Linked DNA regions of Homo sapiens. The protein of the gene in region 1 purifies or fractionates together with the protein of each later gene. This does not show direct contact. Each region holds a gene or a part of one and is shown on either strand. Other genes may lie near its edges.

Evidence for each region. The genes of interacting proteins can lie anywhere in the genome.
Region 2: the proteins of NT5E (region 1) and SCAMP1 purify together in Homo sapiens (affinity purification with mass spectrometry; 3 studies listed by BioGRID and IntAct, with this or other methods). This does not show direct contact.
Region 3: the proteins of NT5E (region 1) and VANGL2 purify together in Homo sapiens (affinity purification with mass spectrometry; 3 studies listed by BioGRID and IntAct, with this or other methods). This does not show direct contact.
Region 4: the proteins of NT5E (region 1) and GLMN purify together in Homo sapiens (affinity purification with mass spectrometry; 3 studies listed by BioGRID and IntAct, with this or other methods). This does not show direct contact.

The regions. Positions count from the first base shown.
Region 1 is NC_000006.12:85,484,583-85,488,082, forward strand, and holds part of NT5E (5'-nucleotidase isoform 1 preproprotein), read left to right. Parts: intron 1-652; coding exon 653-850; intron 851-2,752; coding exon 2,753-2,907; intron 2,908-3,500. UniProt on the Homo sapiens protein: Catalyzes the hydrolysis of nucleotide monophosphates, releasing inorganic phosphate and the corresponding nucleoside, with AMP being the preferred substrate. Shows a preference for ribonucleotide monophosphates over their equivalent deoxyribose forms.
Region 2 is NC_000005.10:78,419,617-78,423,116, forward strand, and holds part of SCAMP1 (secretory carrier-associated membrane protein 1), read left to right. Parts: intron 1-2,184; coding exon 2,185-2,344; intron 2,345-3,500. UniProt on the Homo sapiens protein: Functions in post-Golgi recycling pathways. Acts as a recycling carrier to the cell surface.
Region 3 is NC_000001.11:160,410,564-160,414,063, forward strand, and holds part of VANGL2 (vang-like protein 2), read left to right. Parts: intron 1-3,500. UniProt on the Homo sapiens protein: Involved in the control of early morphogenesis and patterning of both axial midline structures and the development of neural plate. Plays a role in the regulation of planar cell polarity, particularly in the orientation of stereociliary bundles in the cochlea.
Region 4 is NC_000001.11:92,271,488-92,274,987, reverse strand, and holds part of GLMN (glomulin), read left to right. Parts: intron 1-3,335; coding exon 3,336-3,500.

The DNA.
Region 1 (3,500 bases):
AAGACACCTGAAGGGATGCAGAATTTAGCAGCAAACGCCAAGAACAGCTCTTTGTCATCTCTGCATCTTCTACTAAAGATTTTAAGCTCCGAAGTATATGTCTGGGGTTTCTAGAGATTGCTATTCCCTTATAAGGGAAAAAATACACCCTTATTGTATATTTATTGAGCACCTACAATGTGCCAGGCACCCCAGCTAGGGAGTTTAGATATTTAATCCTCTCAGCTGCCCTGTAAAATAGGGATTGTTTAAAATGGATTTCGCCCACCTTATAGGCAAGGAAACTGAACTACAGTATGGTAAAGTGGCTTGGCTAATCCACCTGGCTAGTGAGAATGGAGCCACAGTGAACCTGGAGGATACTCTTCACGGCGTTCCATCTTTGTGTGCCCCACAGCACAAGCACAATGCCCGGGTCTTAGGAAGAGCTTGGTAAATGACTGCTGAGTTGAGAATGGTAGGATTCATGTACCAAAAGGGCATTTGGAAATGGGCAAATGCCCAGATAGGGCTCTGAAAGACTAGCTATGTAGAGCAACAGATGGCAAATCATCAATTTAAAACTCTGTCATCCAGCCAGTAGCCCGCTGGCCTACAGCCAGCCATGTATGTACAAGGGCTGACTTGATCAGCTGTGGCTCTTTTATTTCAGGCAATCCACCTTCCAAAGAGGTGCCTGCTGGGAAGTACCCATTCATAGTCACTTCTGATGATGGGCGGAAGGTTCCTGTAGTCCAGGCCTATGCTTTTGGCAAATACCTAGGCTATCTGAAGATCGAGTTTGATGAAAGAGGAAACGTCATCTCTTCCCATGGAAATCCCATTCTTCTAAACAGCAGCATTCCTGAAGGTAAGTGAAGTTCAGGGGAATGTTCCACCAATCTAAAATTTAGATGGCTGGATATTTTGCTCCTTCCCATTTTTTTCCTTTAATGTTTCAGGAAAAGACTATAATACTGTTGAAGAATTTAGTTTCTTCCTTGAGTTTGCCCTCTTCATGGATAGATTTAAAACACACCCAAATGCCAAAAGCCCCACTTGCTTCTTCAAGTCTTCTCAGCATCAGATTCCATACATCACTGCTTCCTCTGCCTTTTAAAATCTTGATCCTGACATGCCAAAGCCACTCTCAGCTTGTGTTTACAGGAGAGATAACTGAACTAAAGGGGTTCTAATTGGGCAGAGCGGGGCTCAAGTCCTGGCCCCCCAACTAGAGGCAGTGTGCCTTAGGCAAGTTGCCCAATCTCATGGGCCTCAGTTTCTTTATCAAATGAGGGAGTACCTTATTTATATGTCTGAGTCTATTGCGGGATCTGGCCAGCAGCCCGCAATGCAATGGGGCTCTCTCTTTGTTCCTAGGCAGATTGGCAGGTTGAGAAATAATAGACACACACAAGATAGTGAAAGCTGGGTCCAGGGGGGTCACTGCCTTCTGGTCCTGCGGTGCCAACAATGCACTGGATATACCAGCATTTATTATTAAGTTTAGTGAGGGCAGGGGTACGTTAGTGAGGGATTTAGGGTCATTTGATTATGAGGTGAGATGGTCACATGGGGATGAAGTAATTCTTTAACATAACATTTGTATGTAGAAGTACAGTACATTTGTATGTAGAAGTACAGTATGAGATAAGAATTTACAATATAGTGTGTGCGTCAGTAATTTCTAACAGAGCCTTAGAACAGAAACACAGTCTTTCCATAACCTATGATTAGCAAGATATTAATCAGCAGTAACAATTGCAACAAAAACTGGTTACAAATAATCCATGGAAACAGGACATGAAGCTAGATAACCAGTTAGACCAGAAATTCTCAGAGGGGAGTACGCCTTAACCCTAAAGAGGCCTAGAAGAGCGGCGGCAAGATGAGCGTGTTTATAGCCCTATCTTATCCATATGGACAGGCCCCCCCCATGCGTCCGTTTATAGGCTCCCCACAAGGGTCACATTCCATTCCCAGAGCTATGAACATCTGCTTTTCTGGGATAGGAATCTTGGTGATGGGAAACCTCCCTGACTGCACGTCCATTTGTAGGCTCTCTGCAGGGGGAAGCACATCACGTGCTGTTGGCTCATTGTGGCAGTCCAACCTGGCATTGTCTTTACACAATCCTGCATGCAATTTTGTATTTACAATAATCAGGAGCATTTCATCTTTTATTCCGTAGCAATAGTTTCAGGGCGTCTCCCTACATGAGTCTCAGAGTAAAAATACATTTTTATATCATTGATTTTCATATGTGTACAGAACACACTCCTGTGCTTGTCTCTCACTTTCCCTTTTCTGTTGACTATGATCATGTCAGGAAGATGAGGTGCACAGCACCCAGGTGAGCCTGTAGTCACAACACAGCCCTCTCAGTAGCCAGATGGGAAAGGGGCCCAGGACCACACTGACAGCGATAGCCCAGCTGTACCTCAGCAGGCCTTTTATAACTGCCCCTGGGCCTTTCAGAGCTCCTACCGCCACCACTAATGCTGTCCCAGGTGGGCCAATGGGTAGCTCATACAGATGTGATGAGCTGGTAGATGTTCAGAATATTCTTAAATTAAGATGCATTCCAGGTCTTATTACCAGGAAACAAAATAGAAGTTCCTAAGGAAATTTCATGGTCAAAACCAAAATGCACACAAATATGGTAAACAAATATGTTCTCACAGCAAGTAAGATAGATGATGTTTCATTCCTTTTCCAGAATTTAGCCCAGTGTGAGATTTAATTGTAGGGTACCTTCTTTTCTTTCTTCTAGATCCAAGCATAAAAGCAGACATTAACAAATGGAGGATAAAATTGGATAATTATTCTACCCAGGAATTAGGGAAAACAATTGTCTATCTGGATGGCTCCTCTCAATCATGCCGCTTTAGAGAATGCAACATGGGCAACCTGATTTGTGATGCAATGGTAAGTCATCAGCAGGAGTGGACATATGCTAGGGAGGAAGGAAAGGAAGAGGGAAGAGGAAGGAAGGATGCGAGAAGGGATAGATCGATAGCTACAGAATGAGGGATTTCAAAACATTTTTAGCCAGGGTGGTGGCATGTGCCTATAGTCCCAGCTACTCGGGAGGCTTAGGTGGGAAGATGGCTTGAGCCCAGGAGGCTGCAGTGAGCTATAATTGCACCAGTGCACTCCAGCCTGGGCAAAAGAGCGAGACTCTGTCTCTAAAATTAAATAAATATGAAAAATAAATAAAACATTAGTGCCTAAACAAAAGCCTGATGTAGCTTCATACTCAGTACCTTCTTAAGGTGCTGGAAGGAGATCAGGTAACCACCAACATACTGCTTTACAAGAACTAAAACCTTTATTTTAAGGTGTTCTTAGATGTCTGAATTTTGGATGTTGCTTTCCTTTTGTAAGATGATGCAAATGCACAAACTCTGCTACCCTGGAGATATCAACATAATAGATAAAAGCATATCTGTTTGGCCAGACTGTTTTTCACTCATCTGTTCACTTGACTCCAGAGAACCCTGGCCTTGTGTGACAGGAAC
Region 2 (3,500 bases), on another chromosome or scaffold:
CTGTCAGAAGGGGAGGTAGCTATTGAGGGTTCTCACATGCACAACATCTGGGTTAATGGATAATTTGTAGGGTACATTCTTGATGGAGGAAATTTACTTGTTTTTACTTTATGATTAATGAGACTACCACCCTTCCCTTAATGGATGAGATAATTTTCCTTAAAATCTTTTAGGAGCATTCTTCATGTATGTCAAGTTGTTTTGGAATGTGAGAAGTGTTTCCTAATGGATAGTCTATTTTTAACTCTTCATTAGTATTTTTCGAGATATTCTTGATCTAATATCTTTTGCTGAATCCTCAGTGTCAGTAGTATATATTTTTAATATTAAATGTCTGATTCCATATATGTACATGCTAACCAACTCTTATTTAATCAATATAATATATGCATTTATATTTTATATATGTTTATTTTTTTAAATGGGCAGAAATTGTCCTAGCATTTTATTTTATTTTGAGACAGAGTCTTGCTTTGTTGCCTAGGCTGGAGTGCAATGGCACGATCTTGGTTCACTGCAACCTCCGCTTCCCGGGTTCAAGTGATTCTCGTGCCTCAGCCTCCTGAGTAGCTGGGACTACAGGCACATGCCATCACGCCTGGCTAATTTTTGTATTTTCATCTATACTTGGAATAATTTTCATGAACTTTAAAGTGTAATTATACATATATTTTATCTTTCTTTCAGTGGATTAGGAAATAACCTAATTTGAAAATTGAAATTTAAGTTAGAATGTTCTTAAGGTCTAAAACTTTTTAAGGCAGCTGGATGCTATTTAATGCTGCAGAGTAATAATTTTCTATTTCACAATCTTCAATTCTGTTTTTAAGATCTTAACACAACCACCCTTATTTTGAGGCCAAGGGTTTTGAGTAAATTTATTATGAGCAAGCATTCCTGAGAGTTAAAAATCCTAATGGGACTAGAGTAATGAGTGAGAGTGTCTCTTTTGTGATAGAATTGAATGGGATTTTAAAGTGGGAAAAGCTCCTGCATTTCTATGGCTGAAAAATTGAAGCTTACAGAGGTTGAGTGATTGGCTTAATATTAGATGACTACAACCTAAGTGACTTCATCTGGAGCTCTTTTTAAAAAAAAACAAAAAACAAAACTCTAGAGCTTGTTTACTTATCTGGTGGGTTAGGTAAGAGCAAATTTAGGCATCCCAGAATGTGTGTGTGTATCCTGTTTCATTAATTATTAACTTATTTGATTTGTAAAGAAATCTTAAAGTTTGAGATTTAAAAAACTAGATCCAATAGGTTTTCCCAGTTGTTAATTTTAATTCAAGTAATTTGTTGGCATATTTTTATTGATTTGATAATTTACATTAAACATCATTTTAGCTTATATAAGAATGTACTTACTATAATAAATTCAGCCTGTGAATAAATTTTTAAAAAATCCTTTGAAACAGTTATTAATTACAATGGGTCAAAGTAGTTCTTTAGGATCATGGTATAGTTAGATGTTACTCAGATTTTTTGTTTTTGGTCTGTCAGGGAAAGCAATTATTAACAGCATATGATGAATTTGTCAACATCTATTTGTGTTAACCAAAAGAAAAGCCTGCCACAGTAGCTAAAATGTATCATGTTGTGTGGGGGAGTGAGGAGGGGACTTAATAAATTTAATCCTCTACCAAAACGCAAGTTTTTTTCAGGATTTTACAAATGGACAGCTCTATGAAGTTGAATGAACAATCCTTATACATTGACTATATAGTCACTAGAAATTGCTACTGTATTAGTATTTTTAGTCCAGTGTTTAGTCTGCAGCCCCATTCTGTAAAGATATGGTTTTTCCTCCTAAGTCCTGGGTCTTTTCCTGGCAGACACTGCTTTTCTTCTTGGGCTTCAGATCAAGAGACATCACGTTTCCTTTTCGGGAAGAAGCCCTTAAGGTAGTGCGCCTCTGGTTTAGCTACATCATTGCCTGTGAGGAGGAGAGGGCCAACAGAATTTTTGCCAAACAGTACATGTATTAAGACTCGCTTTCCTGTGTATACTCTGTTTTCAAATCAAATATGTAAGATACAACAGTGTTTTGAAAAATATAAATGGAAACATGGAGTAGAATACATTTGCTCTTAGGAAGTATTTTTTTATTTACAATTTTTTGTTGGATGAATTCATAAATTGAATGTAAATCTTTCTTTTTCTATTTTGTTTTCTGATTCCACAGTCCATGCAGTAACACTGTTTCTAAATATCTTCGGATGCTTGGCTTGGTTTTGTGTTGATTCTGCAAGAGCGGTTGATTTTGGATTGAGTATCCTGTGGTTCTTGCTTTTTACTCCTTGTTCATTTGTCTGTTGGTACAGACCACTTTATGGAGCTTTCAGGTAAAATGTGTGTACTTTAAAATACACTCTTTAAAACCTGTGAAGTAAATAATTCGTAGTATACATTAAAGGGAAAATTGATGCATTTTCATTAAAAAATTCTTGTATTGTTGTGTAACATACCTTCAGGAAAGTTCAATATAGCATGCCTGTGTATTCATTGGATTTTGTAAGTCATAAAATTCCATTTTTTTCTCCCATTTGATAAAAGACCAAACATGAAAATTGATGGAAAAATAAGAACAGTCTTAGAAGTTAATATTTATAAAATATTCTCTTCCATATGTTATACTTCAAGGAAAATTTTGCTGTTTGCCCACCCCACCTCCCAAATCAAAATCCCAATTGGTGCTTATGGTTTTTTTTTTTTTAAATTAACCTAAGTAAGGTAAATATACATGCAATATTTAAAATGAGCCATTTGCACCTAGCAACTTGGATTATTTTCTTTATAAATCCATTTTAGGTTTTTTCAAAGGCAGCACCATTTTAAAAACGATTTATGCTACTAGGTTAAGTATAATGCTTTACATAGTATATTTTAATCAGTGGTTAGGGTTAACATTTCCTTAGCGCATGTTCTGTGGGATATTAATAGGTGCTGGGGGAGAAAAAAAGAGCTCATAAGCTTAGTAAATTTGGGAACAGCTGGATAATAAGGTTAAGCAAGTTTCTTCATTTCAGGATTTCTTACACTCTTTAAGTACCTAGTATGATTTGTGCCTTATGACTTGACCATGCAACCATTATTTTTCTGTGGAGTACTTTGTTGGACTATTGCTTTAAGAAGTATTGGGAAATACTGATTGAAATGATAGTCCTATATGGGTTCATATATTTAATAGTTTTTTTAAACTCATTTTTATTTGAGTAAATTCTTGTGAATAACCATTTCAACTCTCGTGAATAAGGGGTAACATTACTAGGATATATGCGTGTGTTGTTTAAAGGATATATTAGGGAAATTAGAGGCCCACATTTAAGTGTTCAGTATGTTTTGCCATTGCAACCTAAAATCTCTTTAGTTAACCAGAATGTGTAACACACGCGCGCGCGCACACACACACACACACACACACACACACACACACAGAGTTAGAAACCCAGATCTGTAAACAGATGAGGGAAAAACAGAAGAGAACAGGAGATGGGAGAA
Region 3 (3,500 bases), on another chromosome or scaffold:
GCTGGCGTTTGTGTTCAACGCCTTGCCCACTTGAGCCGCCTCCTTTGAGTGGGAAATGGGAAAGGGTTGGTCCGCCCTGGTCTGTGTTTTGGCCAACACCCACCCCCCTTATACACACACACACACACACACACACGCACGCACGCACGCACTACTCTAGGGCCCTGCTCCCTCTGCCTGTTGCCAGGTTCTGAGTGTATTTTTTCCAGAGGCCTCCAATTGTTTCCTGAAGAAACCTGATCCCAGAGCTCAGACAAAAGCTGGGGCCGCCAGAGGAGAAACCCCATTCTCTCCTCCTCTGTCCCTATTGCCCCCACCTCCATAACCTCCCTCCCTTTGGATGCTGGGTATGGGTTCCAGGACCCGGCTGCCATCACCTAGGCAACAGGGGGCTTTTGTTGCCATGGTGATCAATGTGGGAGAAGCTGGGCAGCAGGGACAAAAGCCCCCACATTCCCCCCTGCCAAGCTCCCCCCCAATCCCCTTGGGATGATACTGAGACACATTCCATTAATTTTATTTCTGAAAGGCCTTTGGAGGGGAGAAGGGTCTCCTTTTTGTAACAGGCTCTCTCTTCTCTCCCTCTCTCCTCCCTGGCCTCATTTTAACCCCAGATAATCCATGGTTGGTTTGAGCAGGGGACTGAGTGTGTGTGTTTGTGTCTTGGGAAGTGGGGGGCAAGGTGAAAGGCAGTGGGGCACATTCCTTTTCTATAGCCTCCCCCTTCCCCAGACTAGGGCAGCTCCCTGTCCTGCACCAAGTCCGGACTTCCCTCCCTGTCTCGTCATCCCTCTTGACGTTTCCACTTGTTGATCTCATCCAGCCATCCCCTCCCCCCATCTCTTCCCTGGGAACGCTGCCCACCCAGGGGACCCTCCAAACCCCTGATCCCTGAGACTGATTAAATAAGGGGAACTTCTGCCCTTCTCTTTACTCCCCTCTCCTCCCTCCTCCCAGGCCCCCCAGCAGCAGTGCTTGGATTAGTTCCCTGGTGTACTTGAAGACACAGCAGGCAAGGGTCTCAGAAGTCGGGTTCATTTTTGGCACCTGTGTTTGGTAGGGAGGAGACAAGCGTGTTTTGGTGCTTTTTGGGCACTCTGACTTGGGTTGGCAGGCCAGGGGAGCAGGATTCATGTTGAGTCTTTAGTAAGTAGCAGGGGAGGAAGATAGGGGGCACTAGGCTGGGCAGCTCAGAACAAAAGGGGACTGGTACCCTTGTCTGGTTTGAAATTTATCTGTAGGGGAAATGAAATGGCATCAGTTTACCTTCTGGGTGTGTTTGAAGTGGTGGTTCTGGTTGGTGTGTGTGTGTGTGTGTATGTGTGAGACTTCTTTATTTAGTTGTACTAACAGCAGGGTTTATTTATACCACCTCTTTCCCTAGTCTCAGAGGAAGTGTCTGAGGATTGGAGTATGAGTGATCCTGGAGCTAAAACTTGTTAATTGCTTAACTAATTACTAGCTGAACCATTTATAAAAGCACTTCTTTCACCCTCGTGATCCTTACGGCTACCCCATGAAAAGGCATCATTGTCTTCACTATTTTACTAATGAGCTTACCAGGCTACAAGCACAGAGGTGTTAAGTAACTTGCACATAGTCACACAGCTAGTCAGTGGAAGAGTTAGGTTTTGAACTCAGATCTTTGAGTGCACATCTCTGGCTCTTCTGGCTGTTGGCTTTGGCAGATGATGGGTATACAGGAGGATGAGGAGATGGACAGCCTGGGATCTAGTGTGTGTGTCTAGACTCTAGTCCGTGGCAGTTGTTTACTTCTCCACCCCCTTCTCTACCCCCATGTCACTCTGTGACCCACTCGTTGCCTTTGAGCCTCCTAGCAAAATTCAGTTTTTATGAAGAAGACTAGAAAGAATAGGCTGGAACCACAAGAGAAATGCAGGTCAGATGTCTAAACTATAAGGAGGAGTAGGCCAGTAGAATGGGTCCTCAGGAGAGTGGGTAGATGAGCCCAACATATATTTTTCAGGTAGGGGGATAAATAAGGGTCATTTTTGCTGCAAAGTTTTTTGGAAAGGCTTATGGTTGGGTTAAGGTATTATGTCCCTGTCCTCTAAGTGTGTCCTTATCACGCACGTGCTTTGACATGGGGATACTGACAAATATAACTAATCCTATGGAGGATTGCCTCCATTGAACTCTGTTAAGAAGATGAATGAATAGATTTCACATGCTTTCATCTCCCTACAGTCATTATAGTTTCCCTGAGAGCCAGAGAGGCATACAGTCATGGATGTTTTGGTCAACGATGGACCACATATATGATGGTGGTCCCATAAAATTATACTATTGTATTTTTACTGTACTTTTTCTATGTTTAGGTACACAAGTACTTACCATTGTGTTACAGTTGGCTACAGTGTTCAGTACAGTAACATGCTGTACAGGTTTGTAGCCTGGGAGCAATAGGCTATACCATAAGGCCTATGTGTGTAGTAGGCTATACCGTCAAGGTTTGTGTAGGTACATTCTATGATGTTCCCAGGATGCAGCTGCCTAATGACACATTTCTCAGAAAGTATCCCTGTGGTTAAGCGAGGCATGACTATGTTCATTTACTAGGTTGGTATCAGTTCCTTGCTCTGTGCCCATGGGAGGCGAGATGGATATAAATATGTATCAATCATATTGCTTATTCTCAAATTACTGATGGTTTAGAGTAGTTGGAGTAAAGGTAATGATACAAAGCAAATCCATTTTAGGTTTTTTTTTTTTTTGAGACGGAGTCTCGTTCTGTCGCCCAGGCTGGAGTGTAGTGGCATGATCTCGGCTCACTGCAACCTCCACCTCCCAGGTTCAAGCAGTTCTCTGCCTCAGCCTCCTAAGTAGCTGGGATTACAGGCACCTGCCACCATGCTTTTTAGTAGAGACGGGGTTTCATCATCTTGGCCAGGCTGGTCTTGAACTCCTGACCTCGTGATCCACCCGCCTTGGCCTCCTAAAGTGCTGGGATTACAGGCTGGGATTACCCGGCCCCATTTTAGTTTTTAACATAATCAGCCTCTCAGCAGCATTTGACCTGGTTGACTTAATTCCCACCTCAAAACACTGTTAAATTTCTGGCTGCCTTGAGACCCCACTCTTCTGGCTCCCCTCCTCCTCTGGCCTTCTCATCCCCTTTGCCTGCTCCTTTTCCTCTGGACATGTCTACCTATTGGGGTCCTTTATGTCCATGGAAGAGTTAGGTTTTGAACTCAGCTGGATCTGAGTTCTATCTATCCCCATAGCTTTTCACACACTCAGTACCTCCAGCTCAGACTGTCCTCCAAGTCTGGCTCGTCTGACACCTGGCTGCCTACTGTCTCATGGCCACTAACTTAGCAGGCTAGAAGCTGAACTAATTATCTTCCCTCACAAGGCTGCTTCCTCCCCAGTCTTCCCTACCCTACTGATGGTGCTACCATCTGCTCCCTTGCTCAGGCCGGGGATTCTTAACTCTCCCTTCCCGCTCATTAGGTCCTGTTGATTTGACCACCAACATT
Region 4 (3,500 bases), on another chromosome or scaffold:
TTTTACTGGGTAGATACTGCTGAAGGAAATACAGGGTGCAGATAGTTCAGCTGGTCAATAATCCATGATTCAGGTTGGATAGGGAAAGAAGGGGGGTTAGGAGGGAATGCCTAGGTAGGTCAAAATGTAGGAATCACAGGACTGGAGAAGTCAGAAGTAGAAAAGCAGATTGCTAGGAGAGACAGGATGACAGATTTTGGTCAGAAAATGGGATATTGGAGTTTAAAGTATCAAATACAGAATAGTTCCAGATGTTCAGAGATCCAGCATGGGATTAGGTACTGAAATGGATTAGAACTAAAAGTCACTAGAATTTAGAAATTGAGAACCATGAGAGTGGATGCAATGACTTGTTGCTTGATTGAAAAATAAATTAATAATAATAAAGGACCATGAGACTAGCCTGTTATAGGGGTTATCTCCATGAACATTGAATTTTCCCAGGATCATAGCAGGAATTGGGTAGAGAAAAAGATTATGAGAAGGTGCCAGAGTCTTCAGTGAATGTCAGGAAATTACCAGGAAGTCAGCATATGACAGAGAAAAGGACAGTATGTTATCTGCATCAAAGGAAAATGTGCTTTTGTTGAAAAGTACAGAAAAAGCCAATACTACAATACTGTGCTAAGCCCCTACCTGTACTCCTCTACCCAACAGCTGCATTCCAGGCCCTGTGGTATAAAAGGTGTGAGAATGAGCATCTCCCACCAGAAATCAGACAGGTTTAGTTAAAGCAGTGAGGCAGAACAAGCATCCTATGAAGAGACTGAGGATGTAGGTGAGTGGTTCTAAAATCTCAGTAGAAGGAACATTGCAAGTAGAAAGAGCCAGCAGTAAGGATGCACGTAGCAGTCTAGAAGTAGAGGTGAGACCAGCTTGGAGATGAAATGAGGAGATGTCTTCTGTTCTGTGCTGGAGAAGTACTGGTAAGTGTGGTGTGGTTGGGATTCACAGGCCTCAGCCATCCTCACTTTGGTACAAGTTATTTTGGTACAGAACTACTAGAATGTCCCAAAGGCTGTAGTACAGGAACATTTCTGAAAGGACAAAAGCTGCCATGAATATTGAGAAATTGTATGGTGCCAGGTACAGCCTGGATCTGAGCAAGACTGCTGGATGGTGTGTGGATAGATAGTGAAGGCCCAGATTTGGGAACAGATTGGATCTCAGATATCCAGAGCAGCACTGTAGAATCTAGTTGCATATAATAATGTTTTAAAAAGGGTATCTTAGGCTGGGCACGGTAGCTCCCGCTTGTAGGCCCAGGCCTTTGGGAGGCCAAGGTGGGCAGATCACTTAAGCCCAGGAGTTCAAGACCAGCCTGGGCTGCATGGCGAAACCCCATCTCTATAAAAAATAAAAAAAATAAAAAAAAAATAGCGGGCATGGTGGCATGTACCAGTAGTCCTAGCTACTCAGGAGACTGAGGAGGGTGGATTGCTTGAGCCTGGGGAAGTCAAGGCTGCAGTAAGCCATGATCATGCCACTACACTCCAGCCTGAGTGACAGAGTGAGACCTTGTCGCCAAAAAAAAAAAAAAAAAAAACAGGGCTACCTTACTCTGGAAAAAACACATGTAGCATTGGCTGAATAAAGAAATGGAGCTTCATGATTAAGGACATTTGGAATCAGAGTGCAATAAACTTTTTGTCTTGTAGCTATAACCAGAATGCATGGCTTTGAAAATCACTGCAGCAGTATATATTTAGCATCTGGTCGCTGAATAGCAGTCTCTTGTGACTGAGGATGATTTTCCATGGTTCCTTTTTGTATTCTGAAATGACTAATGGAACCATCTGGGATCAGCAGATTTTAAGTCCCTGAAGGCTGGAAAAGACTTATACTTGGCTTTATAATTCCCCACAAAGTCAGGCCCAGCACCTTGCACTTAAGTGTTTATTGAATAAAAGAGTGACTTGTGTGGAAGTTATTCATTCTGCTTTAGCTGTTTTTGTCATTCATTCCCTTTTAACTCTTGTAGTTTGTTGTGACTTTAACTTTCTTACGCTTTTTTTGTGGAGCTGCTCGATAAATATTTGACATAGGTATTATGTCATTTTATGGCTCATCCAGTGTCACACAAGTAGTAAATGGTAGAGCCAAAACTCAAAATCAATGTCAGTGGATTCTGAAGGTAGGTGCTTTCTGGTACGCTAGAATTAGTACCAGTATAAGAGGCATAGGAGTGATCTTGTTTCCTGAGCGGAAAGCTTTATTTAGCCCTGTGGTCCTACCCACTCATGCAAGGATGCTTCTCTTTCTCGTCTCACATGAGAACCCTGATGACTGAGAGATCAACAGTGTTTCCTCAGGCCCAGCTGCCCTGCCCAGCGTTCCTGCATCCCACTCTCTACAGGCACAATGTTAGTGGAGCATTGTTCCTAGAGTATTCTTCATCTTAGTTGCTTTACCCTTGCTTCATATATTTGTATGTCTCACGTTTCAGATTGCTCTCAAATATCCCTGAAGCACTTTTTTAAAAAAAATTGTGGTGAAATATACATAAAATTCATCATTTTAAACTTTTTAAACTATGATTCTGAATTAATTTAGAATACTTCTGATGTATAAAATGCTATGTAAAATACGATTTTGCTGTTGGCTTCTGTATTAGTTTTTCATTGCTGTATAACAAATTCCTGCAAACTTAGCAGTTTAAAACAGCATACCTTTGTTATCTCACAGTTTCTATGGATCAGGAGTCCAGCCACAGCTTAATTGGGTCCTCTGCTCAGGGTCTCATTGGGCTACAGGCCAGTTGTTGACTGGGTCTGTAGTCTTATCAGAAGCTTAACTGGGGAAAGATCCACTTTCAGGTTTCCTCCGCTGGCAGAATTCATTTCCTCTAAGCTGTAGGACTGAGGTCCCCATTTTCTTGCTGGCTGTCAGCCAGGGACCACATTTAGCTTCTAGGAGCTGCCTGTAGTTGGTCCCTTGCCATGTAGTTCTGTCCATGAGCCTTCTCATAACATGGCAGCTTAGTTCTTTAAAGCCAGCAAGGGAGAGAGTCAGAGAGCAAAGTTTCTGACTCTCAGGGAAGGCCTGGACCCCCTTTAAAAATATACCTGATTAAGTTAGGGCCACCCAACTCAAAATCTACTGATTTGGGACCTTAATTACATCTGCAAAAACCCCTTCACTTTTGTCATATAATCTAATCATGGGAGTGACATCTTGGCGCATTCTGTTGGTTGAAAGCAAGTCTCATAGGTCCCACTCACGCTCAAAGGGAGTGATTACACCTCCCCTTGGTGAGAATGTGGAGTTTGAATACACGGGGTGGGGGGCATTTTAGAGTCTGTGTGCTATGGTTTCCTTTTTTATCCATTTCATAGGGTTTTTTATCAGCAATTGGACACCCTTTCCCCAAAATGATTTTTAATCATGGAAGGAAAAAGAGAACTTGGAATTACCTTGAATTTGAAGAAGAAGAAAATAAACAGTTAGCAGACTCAATGGCTTCTCTGGCATATCTAGTATTTGTACAGGGCATCCATATT